Linked DNA regions of Homo sapiens: all the other regions are reported to be linked to region 1. The links are microRNA targets in miRTarBase. Many come from high-throughput screens and were not tested one by one. Region 1 holds a microRNA gene; each other region holds the end of a gene's coding sequence. Distances are from middle to middle.
What was found. Region 1 holds the annotated microRNA hsa-miR-484 (UCAGGCUCAGUCCCCUCCCGAU, at 2,535-2,556, shown strand). A microRNA usually pairs through its seed, bases 2 to 8, with sites in the 3' UTR of a target mRNA and lowers its output. Matches are read on the target gene's strand: a 7mer-m8 pairs with bases 2 to 8, a 7mer-A1 pairs with bases 2 to 7 and ends in A, and an 8mer does both.

Region 1 (6,396 bases):
ACACACTCATTCACTTAAATACTGCCTATGACTGCTTTTGCATTCCAATTGCAGAGTTGCAAAGAGAGTCTCTGCAAAGAGACTGTATGGCCCACAAAGCCTATATTTACTACGTGGCTCTTTTGTCAGCCTGGGCAATATAGCAAGATCACAGCTCTAAAATAAAATAAAGTTCAAAAAATTAGCATAGTGTGGCAGCATGCGCCTAGTCCCAGCTACTAGAGAGACTGAGGTAGGAGGATCTCTTGAGCCCAAGAATTTGAGGCTACAGTGAACTATATTGTGCCACTGGCCCTTCAGCGTGGGCAACAGAGTGAGATTCCATCTCTAAAAAAATTTTTGTTTTCAAGTTTCTGTTTCCTCCTATGCAAAATGTGGCTAATTTCTCCCCGCCACTGCATTACAGAGAAAAAAAAAATTAGATAAATGAACCCCACTGTCTATTTTCACCACTGTATCTCTTGTGCCAACCAAAATGCTCCCTACTCTGTAAATACAAAGTAAACATTACCTACTACACACTATTGGGAGTGGTTAATTTGGAGATGGATTTAACTGCTACCACTGATAGTAAATTACGATTCTTGTCTTTCCTATTAGATACAGGTTTTATGTCCCCCAAAAAACTCCTCTCAAAATCGTAAGAATCTGTGATATTCACAGTGTTCATAACTTAAACATTCTCTCAAACTTCTTCAAAGCCAAATCCTGAAAGTGAGCTAACATTCACAGTATAATCTAGTTTATAAAGTATTTTCACTTAACATTACTTATGTCTTCATTCAGCAAATATTTACTTAGTATCTACTATGCAGCAGGCCTGTGCTTGGCACAAGGAATATAATGATGAAAAAAACCCAGACGGTGGGATCCTCTTATATAATTTTTGCAATAATCCTGTGAAATAGACAGGGGAGAAATTAGCTACATTTTTGCAGAGAGAGAAAAAGAAACTTAATGAAGTTTTGTAGCGAGCCTGACACAAGATTAGGCTTGTTCACCCCTTTCCACTACATCAAGGTGCCTTCAATACTGCTCAATACAAGCGATTAAAAGTAAAAACTTTCAGGTGCCTGCACCCTGAAAACTTCCCAAATACCATCCACGAAGCAACTTAGGTAGCCAAAAGCAGGTTCTGTTTGACTTGAGCGACAGTCTCCTTTCTGTCACTCTCTTCAAGTCTTTTGACCAATTCAATGAGGAGAGCATAGGCTCTGTCGACTGTCTGCATTTTGGTCTCCAATTTGACTGCGGTGCAGCTTTGGACAACTCACAACCTCTCTGAACCTCAGATCCCATCTCTAAAATGGGTGTGATAATAATAGAAACCACCTTACAAGGCCGTTGTTTGGATTACATGAGGTAATCCACGGGGAACATTTAGCAAATGTTGTTTCCTTAGCACCCAATCTAGTCTTTGACCCCACACCACCCCATCCCATTACCGTTTTCTCCCCCATAGCTCTTCTGTCCAAAACGGCCTTTTTAGCTTATTTTATTATCTTTCTCCCCCATTAGGCTATAAACTCCATGACAGCAGAGACTATGTTTTCTTATCCACTATTCCAACTCCTGTCCTTAGTACAATGCCTGGCATATTTTAATAAATAACTGTTGAACGAATAAAGCTTAATAAATAGGAAAACAGTTTAGGTTTCAATACACCGATATGCAAAAGAGAAGAATATTTACCGCTCAGAGAAGTCCAAAAGACACAAATGCAATTGGACAGCTCTTGGTAATACCGGAAAGGTGCTTGAGAAACTCTAAAAGGTGTATCACGAGGTCGCGTTACAACTACTAGTGAGAGTGGCTGAAGCCCTAGACATTGTCAACCCTGAGACTACACCCTATGTGTTGCTAAAAGGCCGAGGAGAATGCAAAACGGCCGGGGAGGGGGGAGTGTGTTGCAAAAACACCCGCCCCTTTCCTTCTCTCTTAACCTTCCAGCTGTGCACTTCACTCCTGGAGGGCCCCACCAGGGGTCAGACAGGGGCGGGCGGGGAGCCAAATGCCCTCGAAGGGGAACAGCGGCGCCAACAGTGACAGTAGTGAATGGACCCGAAAGGGAGACAAGCCAACTCTTTCGTGGGGGGCCCAACTGGCGCGTCCCAGTTAGCTAACCTCCCCTCTCCACCACCATCCCACCAGCAATAGGCGGGGAAAGAGGGGACACTGTCCTCCGTCCCGCCCCGCTGGCCTCGGAGCAGAGCCTGCCGGGGTCTGGTCGCAGGACTGTCTGCAAACTCACCTCTGCCGCCGGCTCCACCTCCGCTCACATTCCGGCCCCGCCGCCTTCCCCCCGCCCCCCCCAGGCCCTTTGTTTTGATTCCCGACTCCGCAGCTCCCGCCGCCGCCGCCAAGCGCACCCTTCACTTCCGCTTCCGCACCGCACCGCCCCTGTCGCAAAACCGACGCCCTTCTCTCCTCTTCGCCCCGCCCCTTCCTCGCCCCGCCTCCGCCGCCGCGTCCTGTCCGCGCGGGGCATGCTGGGAACCCCGGGGGGGGCGGGGCCTCGCGGCCCTGCAGCCTCGTCAGGCTCAGTCCCCTCCCGATAAACCCCTAAATAGGGACTTTCCCGGGGGGTGACCCTGGCTTTTTTGGCGAAAACCCCCAGTTTAAGGAGGCCTTCCCCCTGGCTTCACGTTGTGGAGTCGAAAGGAACCTTGAAGCGGAGAATGAGCTCGTGACGTGGACCCGAGGAAAAAACCTGCCAACCAGGATTTAATAGAATTCAGCTCTTTCAGGCTTTGGAGGGAAGGCGATTTGAACGGGATTTCAATGAAAAACCCTGTCCCTTCGGCTTTTTTTTTTTCCTCTCTCGGGTCTCGTCACGTGATGGTCCTACTTTATTTTTAAAAATTAAATGGCGCATATTCCCCAGCATCCTAAATCTAGTGCAACCTAGTGGCAAGTGGAGAAAAAAATAACTGCCAACCTGGCTTCCTACGAGGTCCCCCGGAGTTCTCGCAAAGTTGCGACCCAGTTGGCAAAAATACAGTGTGTGCAAAGACTCAACTGGACATTGCCACCAAGAATCAAGAGATTTTTGGGGACTTTAGCAAGAAAACGTTATTTTTAAAAGCCCTGCTCCAAAGCTGGTTACAAATGAATACTGCGTTTCCAGTGACAGGTTGGGCGAGCAGAAAGGAAATCTTACGGTTAGTTTCAAACACTTTGTGTTTTAGGTGGCCAGATATGCTGTGTGGTTTGCTTTAAAAAAAAAAATAGCGCCCCACAATCTTCACGTTTCCCTGGAATAAAAAAAAATTTAAGACTCAGCAAAAGGGTGATTTCTGAAACTACCAGCTGATTACTATTTTCTGTTGCAAATTAGGAAAAAAGCAAAGCACATATTGTGTAAGTTAAATCTAGACACGATTTAGGATGTGCTAGCTGCTAGCTAAATGCTACCTTAGGAGTTTATTTTTAAAGTTTGCCCAGAAACAAGTTGACTTTGCAAAAGAATCAGTAAGTCGAAATTGCCAAACGAGAATATTTTGCCCAAAAAAATCCTTACTGGGAGGTTATTTCAATAGGCAATCCCCATTACGTGGGGATTAACACATCCCTGTAAACATCCCTGTAGACGGGTATTGTGGAGGGCAGGATCAGACATGTAGCTGAAGAATCCTTTGTGCCTGTATTTAATTTTCCAGAAGGCAGATGACAAGCACACATCCTCTCCCTGCGTAGGTATTTATTACTGCTGACTAAATCTTGACTGTGGGCTGGGCGCAGTGGCTCAGGCCTGTATTCCCAATACTTTGAGAGGCTACGGAGGGAGGATCTCTTGAGCCTACAAATTTGAGACTAGACTGGGAAACGGTGAAACCCTATCACTATTTAGAAAAGAAAGAAAAAGAAAAAAATCTTCATTATGTCTGTGTATAGGTAGTATTTTCCAAGTGGAGATTAGAATAGATGAAAAACCCGTTTCTAGCGTTTTGGCTTTTTTCAAAGTACCAAACAAATACGCTACTCTTCAGAGGTGTTTTTTCCCCATTTTATTTCAGTTGAGTATGTTTCAACACAAGCCATATTAACTAAAAATCTTAAGAAACAAGGTAATTGTAGGTTTCTAATTGCTTTTTTTAAAAAATAGTTTTTAGCCAGAAAACATCAAAGAATGCAGACACATTTCCTTTTTACTTTTTTTTTTTTTTTTTTTGAGACAAAGTCTTGCTTCATTGCCCAGGCTGGAGTGCAGTGGCAGGATCTTGGCTCACTGCAGCCTCCACCTCCCGGGTTCAACCGATTCTCATGCCTCAGCCTCCTGAGTAGCTAGGATTACAGGCGCCCACCACCATGCCTGGCTAATTTTTGTGTTTTTAGTAGAGACGGGATATTGCCATGTTGGCCAGGCTGGTCTCGAACTCCTAGCCTCAAGTGATCCTCCCGCCTCGGCCTCTTTAGGATTACAGGGCTGAGCCAACGAGCTTGACCACATTTTCTTTATATGTATATTTTTCTTTTAGATTCCTTTTTACCAAGCAGACACATTTTGTTTGACTTAGCTTGGCATTCTTTCAAGTCCAAAGCTGTAACTAGTCACAACAAGTAAATGTAGTGATTGAAAATGGGCGGGGCATGGTGACTCATGTCGTAATCCCAGCACTTTGGGAGGCTGAGACAGGAGGACCCCTTGAGGCTTGGTGTTTAAAACCAGCCTGAGCAACATGGTGTGACACTTGTCTCTATTAAAAAAATTTTTAAAAACAAAACAGTCGTATTAAGTGGAAGGCTAATAAAAGTCTGAATTACAAATACTTTTAAAAGAAATGTAATTTTATTGCTGCTTTCTAAAGACTAGGAGCCTAAGCAAAGTATACCAGGCCTTAGGAGACAATTATGAATCAAAATACATAAATTTTCTCTTAAGATATATTTTAAGTATGTATCCTCTATTAATTGTATTCCTGTTTCTTTGCTGGGAAAACTTTAGAGAGTACAAGTAACTTTCAGTTTTTCCCTTGTCCAAATTATAGTCTTCACATGTATGAAAACCGAAAGACTTTTTTGTGTGCTATTTAAGTAGCTACTTTACATGCAATTCAGCTTTTCAACTAACCAAGCTGTTATTAAAGGAGTTTCTCCCCAGAAACCAATCTTCTACCTGTATTAGGTTCAGTGGTTTGAATTAATAAATGATCATGGAAGGACCTAAGGAAGTTAAATTGAGTTATCTGCTCAGCCATAGTCCAAAGCTACAAGGAAAACAAATTGAATTTAAAAAGAACAAGAAAAACATTTTAAATGTTTTTAAGGTTTTACCCAATGACAAACCTATTTCCCTAAATGTTGTTCCCAAATAGGACTTTAAGGATTATTATTTCAATGCCCTCTCTTTTTTCTTTATGGAAAATTTGGGAAATTGAGAACCAACTAGTTTAAATACCTTGATCAAAGCCATTTAGGCAACACCAGTACCTCATCAGTTTGTGCTTCGGTTTCTCTGTAAGCTGAGGTGATTAGTTCCTGTCCAGAAACGTCACAGAGTGGTTAGGGCCAAATAAAATTCCGAGGGGGGCCAGGCGCAGTGGCTCACGCCTGTAATCCCAGCACTTTGGGAGGCCGAGGCAGGTGGATCACTTGAGGTCAGGAGTTCGAGACCAGCCTGGCCAAACCAACATGGTGAAACCCTGTGTCTACTAAAACTACAAAATTAGCTGGACGTGGTGGTGCACACCTGAAATCCCAGCTACTCAGGAATCTGAGGCAGGAGAATCGCTTGAACCCAGGAGGAAGAGGTTGCGGTGAGCCGAGATCGTGCCACTGCACTCCAGCCTGGGCAACAGAACGAGACTCCGTCAAAAAAAAGAAAAAAAAAATCCAAGGGGGGTTAATACCAGCTACTTGGTAGGCTGAGGCAGGAGAATCGCTTGAACTGGAAGGTGGAGGTTACAATGAGCCGAGATCGCACCACTGCACTCTAGCCTGGGCGACAGAGTGAGATTCCATCTTAATGAATAAGTAAATAAGTAATAAAATTCCTAAGGGGAGGCTTGGTGTGGTGGCTCATGCCTGTAATCCCAGCACTTTTGGAGGCTGAGGCGGGTGGAGCACTTGAGGTCAGGAGTTCAAAACCAGCCTGGCCAACATGGTGAAACCCTGCCTCTACTAAAATAGAAAAATTAGGTGGGCATGGTGGTGAACACCTGTAATCCCAGCTAGTCGAAAGGCTGAGGCAGGAGAATCGCTTGAACCCGGGAGGTGGAGGTTGCAGTGAGCCGAGATTGCAGCACTGCACTCTAGCCTGGGCAACAGAGTGAAACTCTGTCTCGAAATAAAATAAAATTCCAAGGGGGAAGGCATCAGACGTAGTAAAGTGTGAAGCAGCATGTAAATGATTCATTAATGTTTGGGAAGTTTCCTGAAAGACATTTGGTACTTTCC
Region 2 (6,396 bases), not on the chromosome of region 1:
ATATATAGTGTAACCTGTGAATTCATTTGAGCAAGTTCTTGGTACTTGAGTGTTTGGCATCTCTTGATTCTTCTTGTTAGCGCTTGATTTTTAGAGATTTCTTTTCTTTCTTCCTTTTATGTATTTTTTCTTTTTTTTTTTTTTTTTTTTGTCTTTCTTGGCTATTGCAACAGTGTATAATTACATGGAACTTAAAGAGCTAGATTGATGTTCATTGATGTCTTCAAGTCTAGGGTTTCTGCTTGCCCTTTGCTTGATAGGATTCCCATAGCTTCTTTCTCTTTCATTTTGAGAAACTGGTGTATCTGGGATGGTGTGATTGTGGTACTCCCACTAGTAGGTATTCTGGCTTCTTCTACTTGTGGCATGGTAGTAAAAAGCTTTTACTTTTCTATTTTGAGTAAGCTAGCATGGGGCTCTGACCCTTAGTTGAATTTTGGAAGCTCTTTCTGTATGTTTAAAGAGATTGGCTGAGATACACGTGTGTGTGCATCTGAGCACACGTGTGCATGTATAGTTAAATCAGCAAAAAGGATCTAATTACTCTTCTCCATCTCATTTATTTTTATTTTTGTTTTTTTAGAGACAGGGTCTTGCTCTGTCAACCAGGCTGGAGTGCAGTGACACAATCATAACTCACTGCAGCCTTGAACTCCTGGGTTCAAGTGATCTTCCCATCTCAGCCTCCCGAGTAGCTGGGACTACAGGCACGTGCCTCCATGCCCAGCTAATTTTTTTTATTTTAGAAACAGGGTCTGACTTTGTTGCCCTGGCTGGTCTCAAACTCCTGGACTCAGGCAGTCCTCACACCTCGACCTCCCAAAGCGCTGGGGTTATAGGCATGAGCCACCACGTCCAGCCTCCATCTCATTTGAGTGTTAGATTAAAATGTTATTTTTGTTAAAAGTGAGCTCTAGTTAACTGTTCACCTATCTTTTTGAAATTCCTAATCCTGAACCCATGAACTGCTTTTACCAACAGGTTTAGCATGATCCATGCATGACTCAGCAAAGTGGATTTTGTCTCCACAGAGAATGCAACAATATGGAAATCCAAGTGGACATTGAAGCCAAACCAAGCCACTATCAGCTGGTGAGTGGAAGCAGCACGGAGGACTCGCTCCATGTTCATGCTCAGATGGCAGAGAATGAAGAAGAAGGTAGTGGTGGCGGAGGCAGTGAAGAGGATCCCCCCTGCAGACACCAAAGCTGTGAACAGAAAGACTGCCTGGCCAGCAAACCTTGGGACATCAGCCTGGCCCAGCCTGAAAGCATCCGCAGTGACCTAGAGAGTTCTGATGCACAGTCAGACGATGTGCCAGACATCACCTCAGATGAGTGTGGCTCCCCCCGCTCCCATACTGCAGCCTGCCCCTCGACCCCCAGAGCCCAAGGTGCACCGAGCCCAAGTGCCCATATGAACCTCTCTGCCCTAGCCGAGGGACAAACTGTCTTGAAGCCAGAAGGTGGAGAAGCCAGAGTATGAAGTGGAATGAATGCTCCTGTTCTGAGAAGCACACTTGTAACTGCATCTTTTGGAATTTTTTTTTTTTTTTTTCCAAGGGGTAGAGATTTATGTATTTTATTTCACAGATTCTCTGGTCACAGGTTTTTGCCCAGGGAAATTCTGAGAAATTCACAATTTCTTACCAGATAAAACATGAAAAGTTTGCCGTTAGTTCCCCTCCCCTCCCCTCCCTCTTTTTAGTTTTAATTTATTGGTTAAACTGATGGCAGCAATCCATGAGGTGTGTCAAAGAGTGTACATATGTATGTGTGTATATTGAATGCTAAACATATTACTGAAAGACACATTTTAATAAAGATTTCTGTCATAATTCAACTTACCTCATTTTCCTTGGCTTGGATAGTCCCACAGAGCCAAGTGTTTGAAACAAAGCACCATCTTTGACAGTCTCTAGACCTGAATTTTTCTAATCCAAGGGAAGAAGGATTGTATTCAAATCCAACCGCAGTAGTCATCTATAAACCTATGACTCCTAGCATGACAGGAAGCAAAGCTAGGCTTGTTTTGGACTTTGTAGTCAGGCTGAAGAATTATTAGCTGAGTCAGCTGAATAGGGAAGCAGTAGATTAAAACTAACTTTGTTTGCCCTCTAGAAGCAACTGTGCAATTTACTCTTAAAACTTTGCCCTTTTCTGCATTATAGTCACTAGTAGTCATATGCTTCAGAGGAGAGAAGGAGTGGCAGTCCCAGGTAGCTCTTAAGAGAATTCTCAGTGGTCAGGCATGGTGGCTCACGCCTGTAATCCCAGCACTTTGGGAGGCCGAGGCAGGTGGATCATTTGAGGCCAGCTGTTTGAGACCCACCTGGCCAACATGGTGAAACCACGCCTCTATTAAAAGTACAAAAATTAGCCAGGCGGTAGTTGCGCACGCCTGTAATCCCAGCTACTCAGGGGGCTGTGGCAGGAGAAGCGCTTGAGCCTGGGGAGGCAGAGGTTGCAGGGAGCCGACATCACTGCAACTCCAGACTGGGTGGCAGAGACCCTGTCTCAAAAAAAAAAGAGTTCTCAGTGAATGTTGCATGGTTACAAGTTGGAGAACAGAATATTCTGTTATTGGAGGAAGAAATACACTGATGCGCATAATCACAAAGCAATGACATAGGTGTTTGCTGTGTTCTCAGGTATACCACTCCGTGTTCTGATAAACTTTCTCAGTTTTGCTAATCTGGTTTAAATAAAAGGGACTAAAATCTGAGATTTGTAATGAAAGGAGGGGGTATGCCCTCAAAATCTCTGAACATATTTATCTGATCTTACAAATTTGTCAAAATTGAGCTAAGTTTGTACTACTTGGAGTTTTGCCTCTGTGTAAAATAATGTCCTGGCCGGGCACAGTGGCTCACGCCTGTAATCCCAGCACTTTGGGAGGCTGAGGCAGGTGGATCACCTGAGGTCAGGAGTTCGAGACCAGCCTGGCCAACATGGTGAAACCCCCGTTTCTACTAAAAATACAGAAGTTAGCCAGGCCTGGTGGCATGTGTCTGTAATTCCAGCTACTCGGGAGGCTGAGGCAGGAGAATCGCTTGAACCTGGGAGGTGCTGGTTGCAGTGAGCTGACATCACCCACTGCACTGCAGCCTGGGAGGCAGAGGGAGACTCCATCTCAAAAATAAAATAAAAAATAAAATAATGGGCTGGGCGCAGTGGTTCACACCTGCAATCCCAGCACTTTGGGAGGCCAAGGCGGGTGAATCACGAGGTCAGGAGATCAAGACCATCCTGGCCAACATGGTGAAACCCCGTCTCTACTAAAAATACAAAAATTAGCTGGGCGTGGTGGCGCACACCTGTAGTCCAGCTACTCGGGAGGCTGAGGCAGGAGAATCACTTGAACTCGGGAGGCGGATGTTGCAGTGAGCCGAGATCGCGCCTTTGCACTCCAGCCTGGGTGACAGAGTGAGACTCCGTCTGACAAAATAAAATAATGTCCTTAGAAGTGAAAGCTTATATACAGTATAGCAAGAAAATTAGAAGACTCGTGAAACCTGATGTCAGATTCCAAATCTTAGAGTGACTTACTTTGTATGAGTCAGTTTCATGCCCCTAACTTCCCCAACTTTCAGATCTTATTTATGTATTTAGAGACGGAGTCTGGCTCTGTCCCCCAGACTGGAGTGCAGTGGCATGATTTTGGCACACTGCAACCTCAGCCTCCCGGGTTCAAGTGATTCTCAAGTCTCAGACTCCCAAGTAGCTGGGATTACAGGTGCATGCCACCACACCCGGCTAATTTTTGTATTTTTAGTAGAGATGGGGTTTTGCCATTTTGGCCAGGCTGGTCTAGAACTCCTGACTCAAGTGATTCCCCCCACCTCAGCCTCCTAAAGTGCTGGGATTACAGGCATGAGCCACCTCGCCCGGCCCTCAGATTGCATTTAAAGAGCTTCCAGTGTCAGACCTCTCTCACCTTAGTCCTGGGCCCAGAGGAAAAATTGAAATCCTCCTTTCCCTGAAGACCAGATGACTTTCTGTTTCCTTTCACAGATGCACTTTTGTCTTCCTGGCCAGTGTTTTACTACAATGAGGATGGCAAGTCTGGACAACAGCCAGCTTAGAAGATTCTTATCTCTTGGGCACTGCAGCCAGACTTCACACATTTCCCTGCACCTAGGACAGGAAATGCTGTTAGTGGACTTTGGATTTCTGGAAGAATGTTCCCTGAAGGGGGCGTGTACTTGTGTGAAAAAGAGAACTTGTTGGAAAAAGAGGCAGACAGCCTGGAGATCTCTGAAACGCAAATTATCAACTCAAAACTTGGAATTCTCTTGAAGCCTCGAGAGAACAATTCACTTCTTTGATAAAATCAAAGAAGTCTGTTGGAGGGGCAGTAGTTTATGGCTAAACCTATATTTCTTATCTGGGTTCCACTTACTACAGCTGTGAGATTTGGGCAGTTTACTCTGAGTCTGTTTTCACTTAGCCAAAATGGAGATGATGATCCTAGTTAAGGGGTTGTGAAGACTGAGATGGTATACTGAAAATGTTTTTGGTAAAGGCCCATGTTTTTTCCTCCTGCAGGAAGAAGAAGAAATGAGTTAAAGGAGATTTTAGATATCATATAAGAAAGGAAGCCTAGACCTCTAGGCCAGAGGCTATGAAAAATTTAAATTTATTCTAATCCTTAGCGACACTTTAGTAGATGAAAAGGCCCATCATCACCACCTAGAGGCGAACACAAATAATGCATTAGAAAAGTTACAATAGCTTGGCCGGGCGTGGTGGCTCATGCCTGTAATCCCAGCACTTTGGGAGGCTGAGGCGGGCGGCTCACAAGGTCGGGAGATCGAGACCATCCTGGCTAACACGGGTGAAACCCCGTCTCTACTAAAAATACACAAAATTAGCCGGGCGTAGTGGTGGGCGCCTGTAGTCCCAGCAACTCGAGAGGCTGAGGCAGGAGAATGGCGTGAACCCGGGAGGCAAAGCTTGCAGTGAGCTGAGATTGCGCCACTGCACTCCAGCCTGGGCAACAGAGCGAGACTCCGTCTCACAAAAAAAAAAAAATAATAATAATAGCTTAGAAAATGGAGAAAGTTTAATTTCCTCTTCATACAGCCTTCATTCATTCTGAAATACCTACCGCATTTCAGGTATAAGATGTAGCAATGACTAAAATACAAAGTTCCTGTCCCCATGGAACTTAGACTCTTAACGGGGGAAGGCAATCAGATATATAACCTGGAGTGAGGATAAGTAATCTGTGAAGAAAAACAGGGAAGACAGAGTGGTAGATAGTGCTACTTGACATGACCAGGTTGGTCCTCCTTGATAAGGTTCCATTTTATTAGAGACTTTAATGGAGCAAGGAAGAGAACTATGTGAATATCTAGGGGAAGCACATACCAGACATGAGGAATAAACTACAAAGGCCCTTTGGTAGAGCATCCTTAGTCTGTTTCCAAAAAAGCATAGTATAGAGGCCTATATGGCTGGAACAAAGTGGACCAAGGTGGGGAGAGTAGTGGATTAGGTCAAAGACAGCTGGAGCAAGATTGTGTAGATTAGCCAAACAACTCTGAAGACAAGGAAATTTTAGATTTCTTTGGGCCAGGAGGAGGTAATCTTCAGCGCCAGACAGATGCAGTGCTTGCGGCCAGCTTTCAAAAAGGTTGAAACTGGGAGGGGCATGTCTGATCACTAGTACTACTTGGACAGGCCAATGTGAAGAAGCTTGTGGATATGGTAAATGAATACTCATTTATGCTCACCTAATGTACCTTCGTATGCTGCAGAGGCTGGAAAACTAAAAACTTCATGTCTTAGATTTCCTTGAAACCAAGGTTCTGAATGTAACCTAAGGTCAAGTTTTGCCAGTTAGATGCACAAACAAGATGTGGAAGGAGGAGTGATTCAGGGGTTATCTTTAGCTACTTTGGCTATTGCTCCTGCAAGATGTAGAGACCTTAGGTTTCTCTTTAACTGCATTCTAATAGCCATCAGTAGCTTTGTGGGTGTTGAAGGGTGTCTGGATCCATAGATAGCAGTTTGCGATATGTTTTCTTGTAGTCAACCTGTAGTGGCCTCCTAATTGCTCATCTCCCCTATGGTGGCAGAGGTAGCAGCTCACATGGAAGGCTAATTCCAGGTCTGGGAATCGCCTGGAGGCCCAGCCTATGGCCATGTTCCCCAGGCTTTCCAGTGCTTTTGTAAGCACCTAATTTACCTGTGTTGAATCCTTTTCCACTTAAAATTGGTAGAGGAGTATTGTTTCCTGCAGTTACTGAATCCTGGCTAATATAGTATTTGGTTCCAAAAGTGGTTACTAGTAACAGGCCCTCAAAGATGGGCTTCTTAGATTAGTTATGACTAAGCTGCATTTGAATGAAATGTAGATCTAGTCACCATTGGAAAATGATAAACTGGTAGG
Region 3 (3,000 bases), not on the chromosome of region 1:
TGGGACTTAAGTCCCAGCTCTACCTCTTAATTGCTGTGACCTTGAGCAAGTGGCTTAGCCTCCGTGTGCCTCAGTGTCTGGTACACAGTGGGCACTCAGGAAGTGTGGGCCCTTTAGGTCAAAGGAGCCTGAGTACAAAGTTCCCCGTGAGCCTGGGGATGTCTGGGCTCTGTCGGAGTCCCCTCGGGCAGCACGTGCCGTTAGCCAGCCATGTGCTCCCACAGAAATACCCGGAGCACGCCATCCACAAGGTGCTGCAGCTCATGCTGCGGCGCGGCGAGATCCAGCATCGCATGCAGCGCAAGGTTCTCTACCGCCTCAAGTGAGTCGCGCCGCCTCACTGGACTCATGGACTCGCCCACGCCTCGCCCCTCCTGCCGCTGCCTGCCATTGACAATGTTGCTGGGACCTCTGCCTCCCCACTGCAGCCCTCGAACTTCCCAGGCACCCTCCTTTCTGCCCCAGAGGAAGGAGCTGTAGTGTCCTGCTGCCTCTGGGCGCCCGCCTCTAGCGCGGTTCTGGGAAGTGTGCTTTTGGCATCCGTTAATAATAAAGCCACGGTGTGTTCAGGTATCTGTGGGTTTGTGCACTCGGTGACCTGTCACCTCCATCGTGCCCTCATGGCAGGGTAAGTGTGAGGGAACAGGGTCTGGAGGCAGACTGGCCAGGGTTTCTGACTTGGATCTGCCACTCAGACTTCTGGGTAAGTCACGTGACTTGAGTGCTCCGGTTTCTTCATCTGTTTAGCGGGGCTCATAAAGCCACTCCCTTGATGCTGGGAATCCAGTGAGACCAGGGAGTGGGGAAGCGCTTCTCAAAGTGTGTGATTTTGATCCGCCTCACCTGTTCCCCAGTAACTTATTGGGGGGCTGCGAGCCGTGGTGCGGCGGTCAGACTGCCTGGATTCATGGACCCTCTCCATGCCTTAGTTTCCTTATCTGTAAGCAGGCTGATACTAGAACCTGCTTCACAGGGTTGTGCTTAGGGTCAGTGAGCAGCTGTTAGTGAGGGGAATGTAGTGGCCACCAGGCAGGAACTAGGACTCCAGCCAGTTCTTTCCTGGTGGGCCACGTGTAACTGTGTGGCCTTGGGCGAGACATTTCACTTTTCTGTGCCTGAGTTTATCAGTAAACTGGAGATGGGGGGATTCCTCACCCTGAGTTGTGAGGATTGAATGACAGAAGGCACTAGTGACAGTGATGCTGGAGGAAGGAGTGTTGCCAAGTGCCTCGGTCACTTTGCCTAATTTCAGAAAGTCACTCTGAGTTGGTATGTTTTGTGTTTTTAAAAAAGCTAGGATTCATAAAATTAAATAGAAATCAGTGAAATAAAATATTTGATATTTAAAATACATTTAGAAATACAAAGTGTCAAGCAAAACGTGAATTTGGAAATCTATGGAACATTAGATAAGGTATTTAAAAGTAATTGCCATGTAAAAATGACACGAACTTGAAGTAAGATTATTTGATTTTTCTAAAAATACAAGAAAGCTTGGTGCATCCGCCTGGTCATTGTTGAATCACAAATGTATTTTTGTGCAGAAGATTCCTGCAGCTCAAAGCCCTTTCTGATTCCATACTGTTCGGGGAAATGGAGAGATGAGAGGAGCTAAATCAGCTTTCCTCTGACTCACTCCCGTTCAAAGCTCATTTCTTTTCTGATAATTTTGAGAGTGTCTGGAACAGCTTTTGTTTTCTTGGTGGGGTGGCAACCTTACTGGGCGCGCTGTGGGTTTTGCATCCAAGGCTGCATCTCCGGTTCCTGCTAGCCTTTCATCTTGCTCAGGTGGGGACTCGCGTGCATCTCAGGCCCAAGGTCCTCCCGTCCTGCTTGTTCATGGAGTGTGGAACTCTCATGAGGTTCACCCTGCAGTGGCAACTTTGCTGGTGGCCTTTTCTCCACCCCTGTGGTGGGTGGTGCTGCTGTGGTCACCTCTGTTTTACAGGTGGAGAAACTGAGGCTCAGAGAGTCAAGTGTCACAGTGAGGGAGTGCAGGGCAGGCTTCAAACCTGGTGGCTCCGAACTCCACCCATGTCACCTTTTCTGCCAGATTCTCTCTTGGCAGTCCCTGACCTCGGCCTGAGTGGGATGCTGGGCAGAGACAGTCCTGGCCTGGGGGAGGCAGGTGCCAGTCAGGTGGGGGAGACTGACCCTGGGGTAGGTTCCCAGGGGTAGGTGGCCTGACTGGCAGGCACAGGACTGAGAGGCCAAAGGGGGTCCGACTGGCTTTTCCGTGGTAGTTGGGGTAGGGCTCATAGGAGGAGCAGCTGTGCTCAGAGCATGCCAGTCTCCTTCCAGATCGGGGCAGCAGCATGAAGAGAGGCCCCTGAGCCAGGGAAACACCTGCTTGTTGGGGAAAGCAAAGGCTGAGGAGAGAGCCTGAAGGGAGGCCAGGAGAGGGGAGCATTCAGGCTGAGTAATAGTTGGGGCTCGGCTTAGTGGAATCTCCAGTCAGGCCTCAGTGACACCTAGAGAGGCAGGGAGGTGGGGCAAGGGGGGGAGCTGGATTCCCGAGCTGGTGCTGCCACTCAGGGTGGCTGAGCTCTTCACTCACCTGTGACCTGGCTCCCTTAGGCTTGTCTTCTCAGATCTGTCCCTACCCTCACCAGCTACAGGCCGCGACCCAGCGGACATTTCTCTCTGCTGAGCAAATCACTTCACCCCTCAGCCTCCTTTCATCTGTAGAAAGGGCACAGCAGTACAGTAGCCCTTTCACCCAGGGGTGGCTGTGAGGATTAACTGAGGGGGTAGACATCAGAGCAGCTGGGCCTGGCCCCGGGGAGGTGCTCCCAGGAAGGGCTGGGTGCCTGTGGTTTTCCCTGCCTCACAGCCTCTGCCATCTCGGATTTCACCTTTTCATGCTTTTGTGTGAGCAGAGGCCGAGCCTCTGCTGCTGTGTTCCCTGCCCCACTCTACTCCTGGCTGCATGGGTCTCTCAACTTCGCTCACCACTATGAGAGCCGCTCCACCCCTTCTCCAGTTCCAGGTCTGGGAAGG
Region 4 (6,396 bases), 4.5 Mb from region 1:
GGGAACCACAGGTTCTGAGGAACAGCAGGCAGATCGTGCTAGGTCAGGGCGCACGCCTGAGCTGAAACCAGCCCAGCACCGCAAGCCATCCTTACTGAATGGAGCAAATCAGTTGAAATTCAAAGAAACCAGAATTCGCATGTAGTGTTTACTCAGCATTTCTGGGCTCAGATCACACCTCAAATCACTTTTTCCACTAGTGTTCACCGATGCCCATTGCCACCCTCCCAGAGCGAGGACCAAAGCCTCATGCAGTGGTTTCCTCTAGATCTCTCTCTCTCTCTCTCTCTTTTAAAAAAGACATTAGGAAGAAATTAATTGGGCTGGGCACGGTGGTTCACACCTGTGCACATCCCAGCACTTTAAGAGGCCAAAGCAGAAGGATTGCTTGAGCCCAGGAGTTCCATACCAGCCTGGGCAACGTAATGAGACCCCGTCTCTACAAAAAACTTTAAAAATTAGCCAGGTGTGGTGACACGGGCCTGTAGTCCCAGCTACTCAGGAGGCCGAAGCAGGAGGATCACTTGAGTCCAGAAGGTTGAGGCTGCAGTGAGCTATGATCATGCCACTGCACTCCAGCCTGGGTGACAGAGTGAGACCCTGTCTCAAAAAAACAAAAGAAATGAAATGAATTGTGACCTTTTAGAGTTCATCTTGCCCAGAGTCTTGTGGGGAGAAATGCCGGTGTGTGCTTTGAAATCCAGTCTGTCTCTCGTGCTTTCGCTCCGTGATGGGAGCTCTCTTCCTCTCCCTCTTCCCTTTCTATATGCTGCCTGCTTTTATTTCGTTCTTTGTTTTTCCATTATTTTGCTTTATGTTCCATTTGCTCTTCTGTTTTATTTTGGCCTGACTTAAAAGAGAAAATAAAAAACTAAACTGGAATCACGTTGAACAAAAAAAAATTCTACCATGCTTCCCGGGTCCCAGGCTGCTGTCAGACTCTTAGCTCGATATAGCATCGTCAGCACCTCCCGCCATGGCTTGGGGACCCCCAGCTCTGTGCAAATGAGAATTTGCCTCCAAGCAGGATGCCCACTGTCTTCTTCTCAATGTTTTTAAACACCCGGCATCTGAAGTGCTGGAAGATGTTTTCCACAATGAATTCCAGCTGCATCTGGTGTTTCTGTTCAGGCAGGCTCATCACTGGAAGGCAAATGGGCCAGCATGTGTCTGTAGGATTTTGAAAAGGGCCGGGCACGGTGGCTCATGCCTGTAATCCCAGCACTTTGGGAGGCCGAGGCGGGCGGATCACTTGAGGTCAGGAGTTTGAAACCAGCCTGGCCAACATGGTGAAACCTCATCTCTACAAAAATACAAAAATTAGCCGGATGTGGTGGCAGATGCCTGTAATCACAGCTACTCGGGAGGCTGAGGCACGAGAATCACTTGACCCCGGGAGGTGGAAGTTGCAGAGAGCCAAGATCATGCCACTGCACTCCAGCCTGGGCAACAGAGTGAGACTCCGCCAAAAGAAAAAAAAAAAAAAAAGCACCAAGGAAAGAAATTGCTGCTCCAAGAATAACTGCGTTGGGTGGAACCTCACCTGCCTTGTCCTGGCGTGGTTTCTCAGTGGCCCCTGCCGGGAAGCTCGGGACAATAATGGCCTGAGGAACCACAGCAGCCCCTTGGTGGGTGCTGGCTCAGCACTTTGAGGAGGAGGAGGAGGAGACAGGCCAAGGTTTTGTTTTGGTTTTGCAAGCTGAAAAGTTCTACAGAATTTCCTTTTTTTTTTTTTTTAATATTGCAGTGGGTTCCCTCTTGGGTAAATGTCATCAAATGTATACTCTGGAAATGGCCTGATATTACGAGCACACCCAAGCCCATTTACTTCCCAAACAAGTATTTATCATCAGGCAGGCCTGAGATTTGCCCACACATAAAGCCTGTCAGCTGGGTCTCTGCACCCAGGAACTGTGCTTTCATAAGCCACATGCTGATTTTGCACAGGCCCTGAATTTTCCCCTCATATCACAAGTCAGGGTAACCCTAGGCCCTGCTGTATTTTCCCCAGGCCTAAGTCAGACTGGATTTTGCAGGTTCTGTGTCCCCAAAAGGAGTGAGTGGAGCCACGCTGAGCCCTCACGCCAGCCAGCCACCTCCCACCTAGCTCACCAGGGCCGCGGTTCAGGATGGGAGCACAGGGCGCAGTGCGACGGGGTGTCTCAAGGGCTCAGTGTGTTTCCGGTTTTTCTCCCCCAATCCAGATGCCCCCATGAGTCCAGAACTGCCTAAGCCTCACCTTCCTGACCAGTTGGTAATCGTCAACGAAACGGAAGCAGACTCTAAGCCCAGCAAGAACGTGGCCAGGAGCGCAGCCGTGGAGACAGCCAGCCTGTCCCCCAGCCTCGTCCCTGCCCGGCAGCCCACCATTTCCCTGCTCTGCGAGGACACGGCTGACACGCTGAGCGTCGAATCGCTGACCCTTGTCCCCCCAGTTGACCCCCACAGCCTCCGCAGCCTCACCGGCATGCCCCCGCTGTCCACGCCGGCTGCCGCCTGCACAGAGCCCGTGGGCGAAGAGGCTGCATGTGCTGAGCCTGTGGGCACCGCTGAGGACTGAGTCAGTGCCGGGGCCTCCCTTTGTGTGTGTGGCCCCGCTGGTAGGGACCCCAGTGCCGCTGACTGGCAAGACACACTGGGAGCACCCACCATTCTGTGCGGCCCCCAGCAGCCATCTCAACCACCTATCCCTGCGCTCCCTTGAATGGGAAGAAGCCCCACGTTGTCCTTGAATTCCTTTTTCACTTTGCATCTCTTCACGTGCAGGCTGGGACCAGCGGAGACACCGCGGCGAATGCAGATGACTGCACCGGCCACTCAGGGAGCTGCCTGGGCTCCGTGTCTCTGAGCCCCGGGTGGCAGGACCCACCGGCACCTCTTTCTTCCTCTGTCATATGGCTCCTCTGTCACCAGCCCCAGTGTGCACAGAAGAATTGGACCAGGTCACTGTACGTAGAAATTTGTAGAAAAGCAGACTTAGATAAACATCTCCTTTGGATATTTATTTCCGCTTTTGGCAGCAGGTGAACATTTATTTTTAAAACTTCTATTTAAAAGAAGTCCAAAAACATCAACACTAAGGTTTGATGTCATGTGAAAAGTGTAATAATAACAGTTAAGATTTCATGATCATTTTCACTGGACCTTTCCTGATATTTTGTTTCAGAGTTCTTAGTGTGGCTTTTTCCATTTATTTAAGTGATTCTTTGTTACTCACTAACTCTGCAAGCCTGTGGAATAATGAAGTACCTTCCTGGAAAGTTTGGATTATTTTTTAAACAAAAACAAGGGAGATACATGTATTCTCAGGTACACACAGAGCTGAGAGGGCTGAATGGTTTTCTGCTATAGCAGCCGAGAGGCCTCCCATCATGGAAAGATTTCTCCAGGAAAAGGAGGAATGTAGCCAGCTCCCCACTCAGGACGCTTCCTCATTTCTCTTCACCAAAACCAAACAGAGACAGCTTCCAGCACCTTCTTCAGTGTTACCATCTCTAAGAAGGAACCAGTTGGGACCGTGAAGACTCCCGACCCTGTGGCCATGATGGAAATCAAAGGAAGACACCCTCTACGTCACCTGCCCTCGACTGTGTGTGCCCACATGTGCCGAGAGATGGCCCAGAGCCAGTTCCCCTCCAGCTGCAAGGGCATGGTGTCCCCAGAGCTCTGAGTCTGTCACTCTCCCTCTGCTACTGCTGCTGATCTGAATATGGAAACCCCATGGTTCCCTTCCCCATTCGGACTGGGTGTGTACAAGCAAGGACCCAGATGCATCAGACACAGCCCCCAAGATGTTCCTTTCTACTCGGCCAGCTCGGGAGCCAGACACAGCACTCACAGCCCAGGCCGTGATCCACCCTCCCCAAGTCCACCAGGGCCAGCGGCCCCTCACCTCTCTGGTCACTGGTGAGACCTTCCACAACTTTCCTCCAGACCTGCCAGCAGATGTGCCCACCAGGGGCATTAGGTATCCGCCGGAGCCTGGCCATAGGGTAGTCTCGGGAGCCGCGCTGAGATCTTTTGCCACCTGCATTTTAGAAGAACATGGTCTCTGTCTCCTCGGCCCAGCCAGCTGTCCCGGCAAGGCCTGCCGAGGGCAGTTTTCAACCTCATGAAGGAAACACAGTCCTGCCAAGGAGGGGGAGTGGCGCCCATGGGGACAGGCCTCAGTCCTTAGAAGCCCTCTGGGTAGCTGTGCCCACCCAGCCTTCATGGCTGCAGGTACAAGGACCTTTGCTTCCATAGAGAAAACGCACAGCTCAGAAAGGGGGCCACATGGGCAGAAACCCAAAGGAAGGACAAACCACGACCACCGTGGCCATCTGCAGAATCCCTGGAAGAGAAGGAAGGCAGGGTGGAGCGGGGGGAAGACCATCATGGAGAGAAGGACCACAGCATCAGGAGACGGGACACGCCACACCCAGCAGGCAGCCTGTGTGTTGCTTAATTTTTTAAGAGCAAGAGGGGTAGAGAGGATCAAGCTGGCCCTGGCTGGAGATGGCTAGCCCCTGAGACATGCACTTCTGGTTTTGAAATGACTCTGTCTGTGGGGCAGCAGAAACTAGAGAAGGCAAGTGGCTGCCCCACCCCAAGGCGTGACCAGGAGGAACAGCCTGCAGCTCACTCCATGCCACACGGGTGGGCCACCAGCCTGCTGTCAGAAGTCTCTGGGCTCCAACTGGTCTTGTAACCACTGAGCACTGAAGGAGAGAGGTCTTGGTCAGGGCTGGACAGCATGCCCGGGAGGACCAGCAGAGGATTAAAGGTGACTGGGAGGACCAGCGGAGGATAAAAGACACTGCTCAGGGCAGGGCTTCTACCCTGCATCCCTGGCCAAGAAAAGGGCAGTCCCCATGTGGGCTTGCAGGGTCACTCTCAGGGGCCTCTTTCAGCTGGGGCTGGCAACTTGCGTCTGGGGGACACCTCCAGGTGTGTGGGGTGAGGATTTCCTATAACCAGGGCTCCCAGAAGCTTTGCTTATGTAAGGAGGTCTGGGAGCCAGCCCATTGGAGGCCACCAGCCATTTTGGCTTCAAAGGACCCCACCTCACCCAGGTCTCAGCGGCAGTGGGCACAGCTATGTCTTCAGGAGCTCCCGTCAAACCTCATAGCTGGGGCGCTCCCAGACAGGCCAGTCCAGACAGGACACGCTGGGCCCCTGGCATCCAGAGGAAGAGCCAGGAGTGTGGGAAGGCCCACAGTGGGGGCTGTGGCTTCTGACACTCAGGTCATAGCCTCAGAGGTCTGAGGTCAGCCCCCACAGACCCATCCGGCCCGCCCCCCAAGTCCCTGCAGAGAGCACTTAGAGTTATGGCCCAGGCCCTGGTCCACCCTTCCCCTGTGCACCTCCGGCTGGGTTTGCCAAGTCAGGGAGCAGGGCTGGCCGCAGGAACTCCCAAACCTTGGCTTTGAATATTGTTGTGGAGGTGTGCTCGTCCCTTTCTGGACGTGCAAGGTACCTGTCCCAGCAGGTCAGATGGGGCCAGCTGAGGCGCTCCCCCAGGCAGGAAGGGCCAGCCTTCACCATCGCGTGGGATTGGGAGGAGGGGCCTCCGTGAGCAGCCCCTCCTCTGCCGCTGTCCCAGCCCAGTCCCTCTCCCGGAGCCTTGGCAGCCTCCCACAACCCAGACACTTGCGTTCACAAGCAACCTAAGGGGCAGGTGAAGAAGCGCAGCCCTGCCAGACGCGCTAGATTCCTCTAAGGTCTCTGAGATGCACCGTTTTTTAAAAAGGCGTGGGGTGAACTGATTTTGATCTTCTTGTCTAGATGCAATAAATAAATCTGAAGCATTTAATGTAGTCATCTTGACATTGGGCCTACACTGTACGAGTTCCTTATGTTTCCTTGAGCTAAAAATATGTAAATAATTTTTGTCCCAGTGAGAACCGAGGGTTAGAAAACCTCGATGCCTCTGAGCCTCGGGACCGCTCTAGGGAAGTACCTGCTTTCGCCAGCATGACTCATGCTTCGTGGGTACTGAACACGAGGGTGGAAATGAAAACTGGAACTTCCTTGTAAATTTAAACTTGGCAATAAAAGAGAAAAAAAGTTACCAAGAATGTAGCGTGCTGCTCCTGGGGGCTGTGGCAGGAGGCCGTGGCCTGGCACAGGGGAAGGTTCCCAGCCAATGACCCCTCATCCCGGCGCAGCTGCTTGGCAGGGGTGTGGTGGCTGGAGCCCCTCCCTCTCCCTCCTCCCCGCACCAGGTTCCCTCCCATCCCCAGGTTCCTAAGAGGTTGTCGGGGCTCATACAACCCGGGAATAACTGCTAAGGGGCAGTTGGCACCATCAGGAAATGTCCCCGCCCTACCCCTGCCGGGTACAGGGAGCGTGGTCCACATTCTGCATCTTTTCCCTGTTGGGCAGGTGGCTGCCCATCCAAGCCTCAGGCTCTGC
Region 5 (6,396 bases), not on the chromosome of region 1:
TGGGAGCATTGCCCTGGTCCCCTCAAGGTGGGGACTTTGCTGCAGGATAGAGAGAAGAGAGCTCCTTGCTGTTTTGAAATTTTGATTAAGTTCAGGCCAGGTGCGGTGGCTGATGCCGGTAATCCCAGCACTTTGGGAGGCCGAGTTGGGTGAATCACTTGAGGTCAGGAGTTCAAGACCAGCCTGGCTAACATGGCGAAACTCCATGTCTTCTAAAATACAAAAATTAGCCGGGCATTACGGCACATGCCTGTAATCCCAGCTACTCGGGAAGCTGAGGCAGGAGAATCGCTTGAACCCGGGAGGTGGAGGTTGCAGTGAGCCAAGATTGCACCACTGCACTCCAGCCTGGGCAACAGAGCGAGAACACCATCTCAAAAGAAAAAAAATTGAAAGAAAATATTTTTATTAATTTCAGTTTCGTTTCATTTTTCCCCTGTGTTTTCTGACCTGGGCTGGGGGATGCTGGAAGGAAGAACACGGCCATTCCGGAGGGTCTTGGGCTGGGGCTGGGGTGCAGGCCCGTGTTGCTGAGGTCATAGTGGTGCTTGGTTGCAATGCATGTGTGACCCTATCGGATTCCCTCTCAGCCTCACCTGTCCTATGTGTGTGTGTCTGTCTCTGTCCACAGGGCGGGTTCCCGCAGTGGCAGTGGCTCCCCATCGCCGGACACCTACTCCCTCTATTGCTACCCATGCACCTGGGGAGACTGCAAGGTGGGCGAGTCCTCTAGCCGCCCAGCCCCCGGTCCCCTACCCTCAACCACACAGCCCAGCCAGGCCTCCCGGGCCCTCACAGAGCCTCTGAGCGGTCGAGCCGCCTCCCTTCTGGGGGCTGACACCCCTGTTAAGACCTACCACAGCTGCCCTCCTCTATTCAAGCCCTCACATCCCCAGAAGCGCTTTGCTCCGTTTGGAGCTCTCAACCCTTTTTCCGGGCCTGCCTACCCCTCAGGCCCTTCAGCGGCCTTGTCTTCTGGGCCCAGAACCACCTCGGGTCCTGTGGCTACCTCTGGCCCTGCGTATTCCCCAGGCCCAGCCTCGCCAGGCCAGGCCTATTCAGCTGCTCCCCCCTCCTCCTGCGCCCCCTCCTCCTCCTCTTCTTCTGAATGGCAGGAACCAGTCCTGGAGCCCTTCGATCCCTTTGAGCTGGGGCAGGGCAGTTCTCCAGAGCCTGAGCTGCTGCGTTCTCAGGAGCCCAGAGCAGTGGGGACACCTGGGCCTGGACCCCGCCTTTCACCACTTGGCCCCTCCAAGGCCTTTGAGCCTGAAGGTTTGGTGCTGCACCAGGTCCCCACCCCACTGTCACCAGCTGCTCTGCAGGGACCCGAGGCGGGAGGAGCACTTTTTCTAACCCAAGGGCGCCTGGAAGGGCCTCCTGCCAGTCCCCGGGATGGAGCCACAGGCTTTGGAGTCCGAGATGCCTCCTCCTGGCAGCCCCCTGCTGACCTGTCTGCACTCTCCCTGGAGGAGGTCTCTCGCAGTCTGCGTTTCATCGGGCTCTCAGAGGATGTGGTGAGCTTCTTTGCCCGAGAACGCATCGATGGTAGCATCTTTGTGCAGCTCAGTGAGGACATCCTGGCAGATGACTTCCACCTCACCAAGCTGCAGGTCAAGAAGATCATGCAGTTCATCAAAGGCTGGAGGCCCAAGATCTGAACTGCCCAGCTGGAGCTGCACAGCTGGAATGCTGGTATGGGGGCCCCAGGTACAGCACTCCGGAGGAGCAGGTGCTGCCTGCAAGAAGGATCTATGTCGAGACTGAGGCTGCTCAGCAGCCACTGGGTGGATCCAGGGGAGATGCATGTGGAAATGTGGTCCTCTGGGGTCAGACCCCTGCACGGGACATCTTGCCTTTGAGTGTGCAGAGTACATGGGGAAGGGGCTGGGGGCACCACTGTGTACCTGGGCCCAGTAAGGCATTTGCCGTGATTCCCACAACGGGGTCAAAAGCTGGCCTTCAGGGTGACCTAACACCACCTCATGCCCTGCTATAGACCTTCACAAACGACTTCCACTGCTGAAGCCTGTAGGCTCTGTTTAGAGACAAGAAGATGGCTGGTAATTTAAGCACCGATTTCCCAAGTGCCCACTCTCCTTTGTGCTCTGTTGGCTTTTGGCCTAAAGCTGCCCCAGAGTGAGGGTGTAGATGTCTGTGTCTGTGAGATGCCTTTCCCTTCCCCCTCTGCTCCACCGTGGTTGAGGGGGGTGGGGCCTGGCCCCGCACACAGGTGAGTCGTGTACAAGCCTAACCCATGGCACCTCAGAGGCTCCACCTGTGGGTCCTGGTTCATGGGTGACAACTTTGGAAGAGCACAGCTCTGCAATTGACCCGACCCACTTATCTAGTTAGGAAGCCAGACACTGCCCAGATGACTCTAGCACCCTGGCTTCTGCTCTGACTTTACTGCAGCTAGTCATCCATCCGTCAGGTGGCGTTCAGTCTCAGAATACTGATTCCGTGGAAGAGCAGGTTGATTTAGGTCAGCTTCTCCTTGATTCTAGAAGCAAGCGGTAGTCAACCACCTCCAATTCCGCCAATCTCTTGCCCCCATCATTTGTCTCTGACAATACTTGGTGTTTTTCCCTGGTTTTCTGTCACTGGCACAGGAGGGTACAGTTGGGAGAGTGCGTTCCTGGAGCTCAGTCCTGCATTTGTTCACGTGCCTCACAGCAGGCCTTTGTGCCCTTGAATCTCAAACATGGGGATCTGCTTGGTACCCAGAGCTCTGGTCATTGTGTCCAACCACACACCCCACCCCATCCGTGTCCTCCATCTCACCCAGAACCACAGGGTGCCCACTAGTGTCAGGGCCCAAAGTGCCAGCCTTCTCTTCTGCCTTACCTAGTCTACCTATTTATTTCCTCCACTTTTTATCTTAAAAGTAGCTAAGCCATGCTGGTGCCCATACTCCAAGCAGGCTGCCTCAGCTCAGAGAAGTGGTCAGAGAGTAGAGCACAGAACCTGTGATGTGGGGACATTTGGTTTTCTTGCAGATCATTTAATGAATCCTCAAGGACTAATGAAATAAATGCTAGACTGCTGAAGATGAGTACAAGTGGCATTCTGGGTGCCAGCTGCTTTCTTCTTTTGAAAACAAGGCCATGGGGACCCATGGGCACAGTGTATATGCCTTCTGGCAGGAGAGGACTGATGGAGGAATGATGTGGGTGTGTGGCCATTCCCATGTCTGTGGAGGCGGCTGGTGGCAGCCTTCATTCCCTTCTGCAGGGCCCTCGCCAGCCCCTCCCTACCCTTCAAGAACCCCCACCCCAGCTTCCACTAGTTTCAACATAATTCACACCTACCTGGTGTTACTGAAGGGAAAGACCCAGGCTCAAAGCTGAATGCCACCAGCCAGGGCCCAAGCTTAGCTTCCTGCATTGGCAGAATGCCGGCTTCAGGCTCTCTCAGACCAAATTTGGAAACCGGTTAATGGCTTTGGTGCAAGGGATCAGCTCCCTACTCTGGTCATCTGAAAACCTCAACTCAGAGGTGACTTGGTTTTAGAGTCTGGCTTCCTAGTGACCAAGCAGAGCCAGACCTGATCTCCTTGCCTGCCAGTCCCAGCTACAGAGCTGGGACCAGGGACATATTTGAAGTACAACTGGAGCAGAGGCAGGAGTAACTGGTAATATCTGACAATTTAGAATGCAGAATGTGATGGGACTGGAATTACGATTCCGCACACACTCAGCGTGGATCCTTCTGCCAGACCCAGTTAGCCCCAGTGCTGTTTACCCAGACTGGGCACTGCTTCTGTAGGAACTTTCCATCCCAGGGGGTGGGGTGGGGAGGGGCTGAAGCTTTGGGGGAGTGCAGGTGCTGTGGGGGTCAGCACTCCTCATGCTGCTCCCGTGCTGCCTGATTACCGCACAGGCATTTCTGGGGCAGCCCTGCTATGCAGGATCTCCGAACATCAAGGGAGATGTCAGCGCCTCTGCTTAGCACCAACGTTCCCACAACCATCCCAAGAAGCACCTATGAATGAGGCACACCCAGAAAAGAAATGGGTAAGATCACACAATGAGGAAATCCAGGCTGGGGAAAGAGGTTTAATATCCCGGTACACCGTGGTGAGAAGCCTGGGCAAAGCATCTGCACAGACAGGTGTGTGTGGTTGAGCCCACCAGGTCCCACTTTCTCTCATCCCAGTCCCTCCCTAAGGTGCTGCCTAGAATTCTGCACACACATTCTTACTCCCCCAAAGCACAGGGCTTTCTTCCAGATTGCTTTTTGAAGGAGGCGTTTAAACCAGAAGGGCAAAGATGCTGACACAGAGTTTGGTTTTTATTGTTATGTGTTTGGCTGGGTGCAGAACTGCCCTCACCACCCCTGGCCACCCTGGCCTCTTGGGAGGAACAGGCAGAGAGGTGGCTTCAGATGGCTCTTGGCTGCCACTCTAGGCCTCGGGGCTTATACAATGAGCAGTGGGCTCTACCTTCCAACAGGAAGTGCAAACTAATTCGAAGTCACACTTCACCAGGAGGGAGAGATGGTCTTGGCTGAAGGCACTTTAATCAGGGAGCAAACCCAGTGCCGGAGTTTGTCTTCTCGTTACTCTGATAAATCTAGACACCACTCTGTTGGAGAACCAGCACTGCCGGCAGCTGGGGTTAGTGCACTGACTGAGCGAGGCATGAGGCCTGCTCACTGGTAGAACTTCTTGTTAGGGCTGTTAGCATGGTCAGCTAGCAGCTGGCATGGGGTGAACTGTTTTCCATAGGCAGCTTCATATTTCTTGAGCCGGTCCACTATCTTCTGGGCGCCATACAGATCCACAAAGCGGAAAGGCCCTGAATAGAGAAAGAGGACTTCGTTGAAGGAGACGCAACACGGGCTCCAGGCTAAAGTGAGCTTCCTTCCCAACCTGCGAGACCAACCTCCCAGACAAGGCGGGAAGCCAAGCCCAAAGACGGCTCCGATGTCTCCCTCTGCAGGTGTGGCCAAGATCCCCTCTTGCAGGCACATGACTGCCTCATTCACAAATCTTGTCACCAGGCGGAACTGGATGTCTTCGTCTGATGAGCTGCCAACAGAAAGAGATGTTTAGGTAGAAGAAGAGGAAAAGGGGAGGAAAGCCAGAGCCGCAGATGCAGAATGGAAGTCGGGATGGGTGCATGGGGAGCTCTGTGGGCCGGTTGGTGCTGGCCCTCAGAGAAGATGCTGCCTGGGTGAACCAAACTTTCCCATGGAAAAAGTGGAGAGTAACTTGCCCTAATTAACATGAAACTGAGCACCTAGAACAGGGCCTGGTGCCGAGAAGATAATCAGTATCTCTTTGACATCAGCAACAGTCAGCTGCTCACAAATGATAATAAAGATCTGGGAGGGTGAAGGGGCCAAGGAGAATCTGTCCTTCCAGCGGCTCTCTGGGAACTTGCCAGAGAAGGCTGGAGCAGGGGAGGGCCTTCACCAGACGTGGCCTGGTTCTCACCTAGATGCTGGGCAGAGACCAAGGAGCACGTGCGAGGGCCTTCCACTTGGAAAGCACCATGCCAGCATCAGGAGTGGTCCTCCTGTTCAGGTATGGTGGTCACAAAGAAAATGGAAGACAGCACCATGGCACGTGTATACCTATGTAACAAACCTGCACATGTATCCCAGGACTTAAAGTATTAAAAAAAAAAAAAAATGGAAGAGGGGCTGGGAAGCTTTGGGCTGTCAGAGAAAGTCAATTTCCAGGCATTAGCCACTCAAACGGACTTACACTTCAGACTTAGGAGGCAGCTTCAGACTCGCTAAAATACTATCCATGTCAGAATTCAAATCCTTCCTCTTCACACCCTCCTGATAGATGTAAAAGCCCTTCCCAGATTTACGACCTAAAACAGGCAAGAAAAGGGAGTGTTACTATTTGTTCTCAGGGAGGGAGTGTTACTATTTGTTCTCAGAACCCTGGCCTGGCCAGGCGTGGTGGCTCACGCCTGTAATCCCAGCACTTTGGGAGGCCGAGGCGGAGGATCATTTGAGGTCAGGAGTTTGAGACCAGCCTGGCCAACATGGTGAAACCCCATCTCTACTAAAAATACAAAAATTAGCTGGGCGAAGCAGGAGGATCGCTTGAACCCGGGAGGTGGAGACGAGATTATGCCACTGCACTCCAGCCTGGGCAACAGTGTGAGACTCTGTCTCAAAAAAAAACAAAAAACAAACAAAAAAGACCCTGACCTGAGAATTCTTGTCTCTGTTGGTCTATTATAAAGCTCTGGCCTCTTCTGAATTCCTGAATTTGTATGTCTAGCTAACCCTAGCAAATTAGTCTTTGTCAGAAGAGTGGGCAGAGAAGGAAAGAAGATCTTGTGACCCGGAGCTTGGGCATCTGTGTACATGGATGAGAAAGGCCACCTGGGTGAGTTTTAACATCCCCATATGCAGCACCGGGTCCTAGAACAC

Region 2: the mRNA of RNF19B is a reported target of hsa-miR-484. The part of its 3' UTR that is shown has no 7-base or 8-base seed match.
Region 3: the mRNA of MCM5 is a reported target of hsa-miR-484. The part of its 3' UTR that is shown has no 7-base or 8-base seed match.
Region 4: miRTarBase lists CLEC16A as a target of hsa-miR-484. Seed matches in the 3' UTR shown: 7mer-m8 at 3,978-3,984.
Region 5: the mRNA of HADHA is a reported target of hsa-miR-484. The part of its 3' UTR that is shown has no 7-base or 8-base seed match.

What each region holds. Positions count from the first base shown.
Region 1 is chr16:15,640,767-15,647,162 of GRCh38, forward strand. It overlaps MIR484 (microRNA 484), which reads left to right and starts at 2,528; the gene lies at 2,528-2,606. MARF1 (meiosis regulator and mRNA stability factor 1) reads right to left here and starts at 2,388. Exons shown (of 27, transcript NM_014647.4): 1 at 2,252-2,388. It also overlaps a transcript of NDE1 not described here.
Region 2 is chr1:32,931,895-32,938,290 of GRCh38, reverse strand. It overlaps RNF19B (ring finger protein 19B), which reads left to right. Exons shown (of 9, transcript NM_001300826.2): 9 at 1,032-1,842. The coding sequence ends at 1,485. Among named protein-coding and RNA genes, the nearest start is that of RNF19B, 30 kb to the left of the region's middle. RefSeq lists an enhancer at 3,909-4,203 and a silencer at 3,909-4,203.
Region 3 is chr22:35,423,930-35,426,929 of GRCh38, forward strand. MCM5 (minichromosome maintenance complex component 5) reads left to right here. Exons shown (of 17, transcript NM_006739.4): 17 at 225-1,502. The coding sequence ends at 326. Among named protein-coding and RNA genes, the nearest start is that of MCM5, 25 kb to the left of the region's middle. RefSeq lists enhancers at 1,913-2,418, 2,419-2,926, 2,927-3,000.
Region 4 is chr16:11,176,131-11,182,526 of GRCh38, forward strand. It overlaps CLEC16A (C-type lectin domain containing 16A), which reads left to right. Exons shown (of 24, transcript NM_015226.3): 24 at 2,205-6,056. The coding sequence ends at 2,560. Among named protein-coding and RNA genes, the nearest start is that of SOCS1, 77 kb to the right of the region's middle. RefSeq lists enhancers at 4,578-4,737, 5,494-6,379, 6,380-6,396.
Region 5 is chr2:26,186,600-26,192,995 of GRCh38, forward strand. HADHA (hydroxyacyl-CoA dehydrogenase trifunctional multienzyme complex subunit alpha) reads right to left here. Exons shown (of 20, transcript NM_000182.5): 18 at 5,711-5,825; 19 at 4,884-5,029; 20 at 4,036-4,796. The coding sequence ends at 4,651. It overlaps GAREM2 (GRB2 associated regulator of MAPK1 subtype 2), which reads left to right. Exons shown (of 6, transcript NM_001168241.2): 6 at 632-3,064. The coding sequence ends at 1,658. Among named protein-coding and RNA genes, the nearest start is that of GAREM2, 17 kb to the left of the region's middle.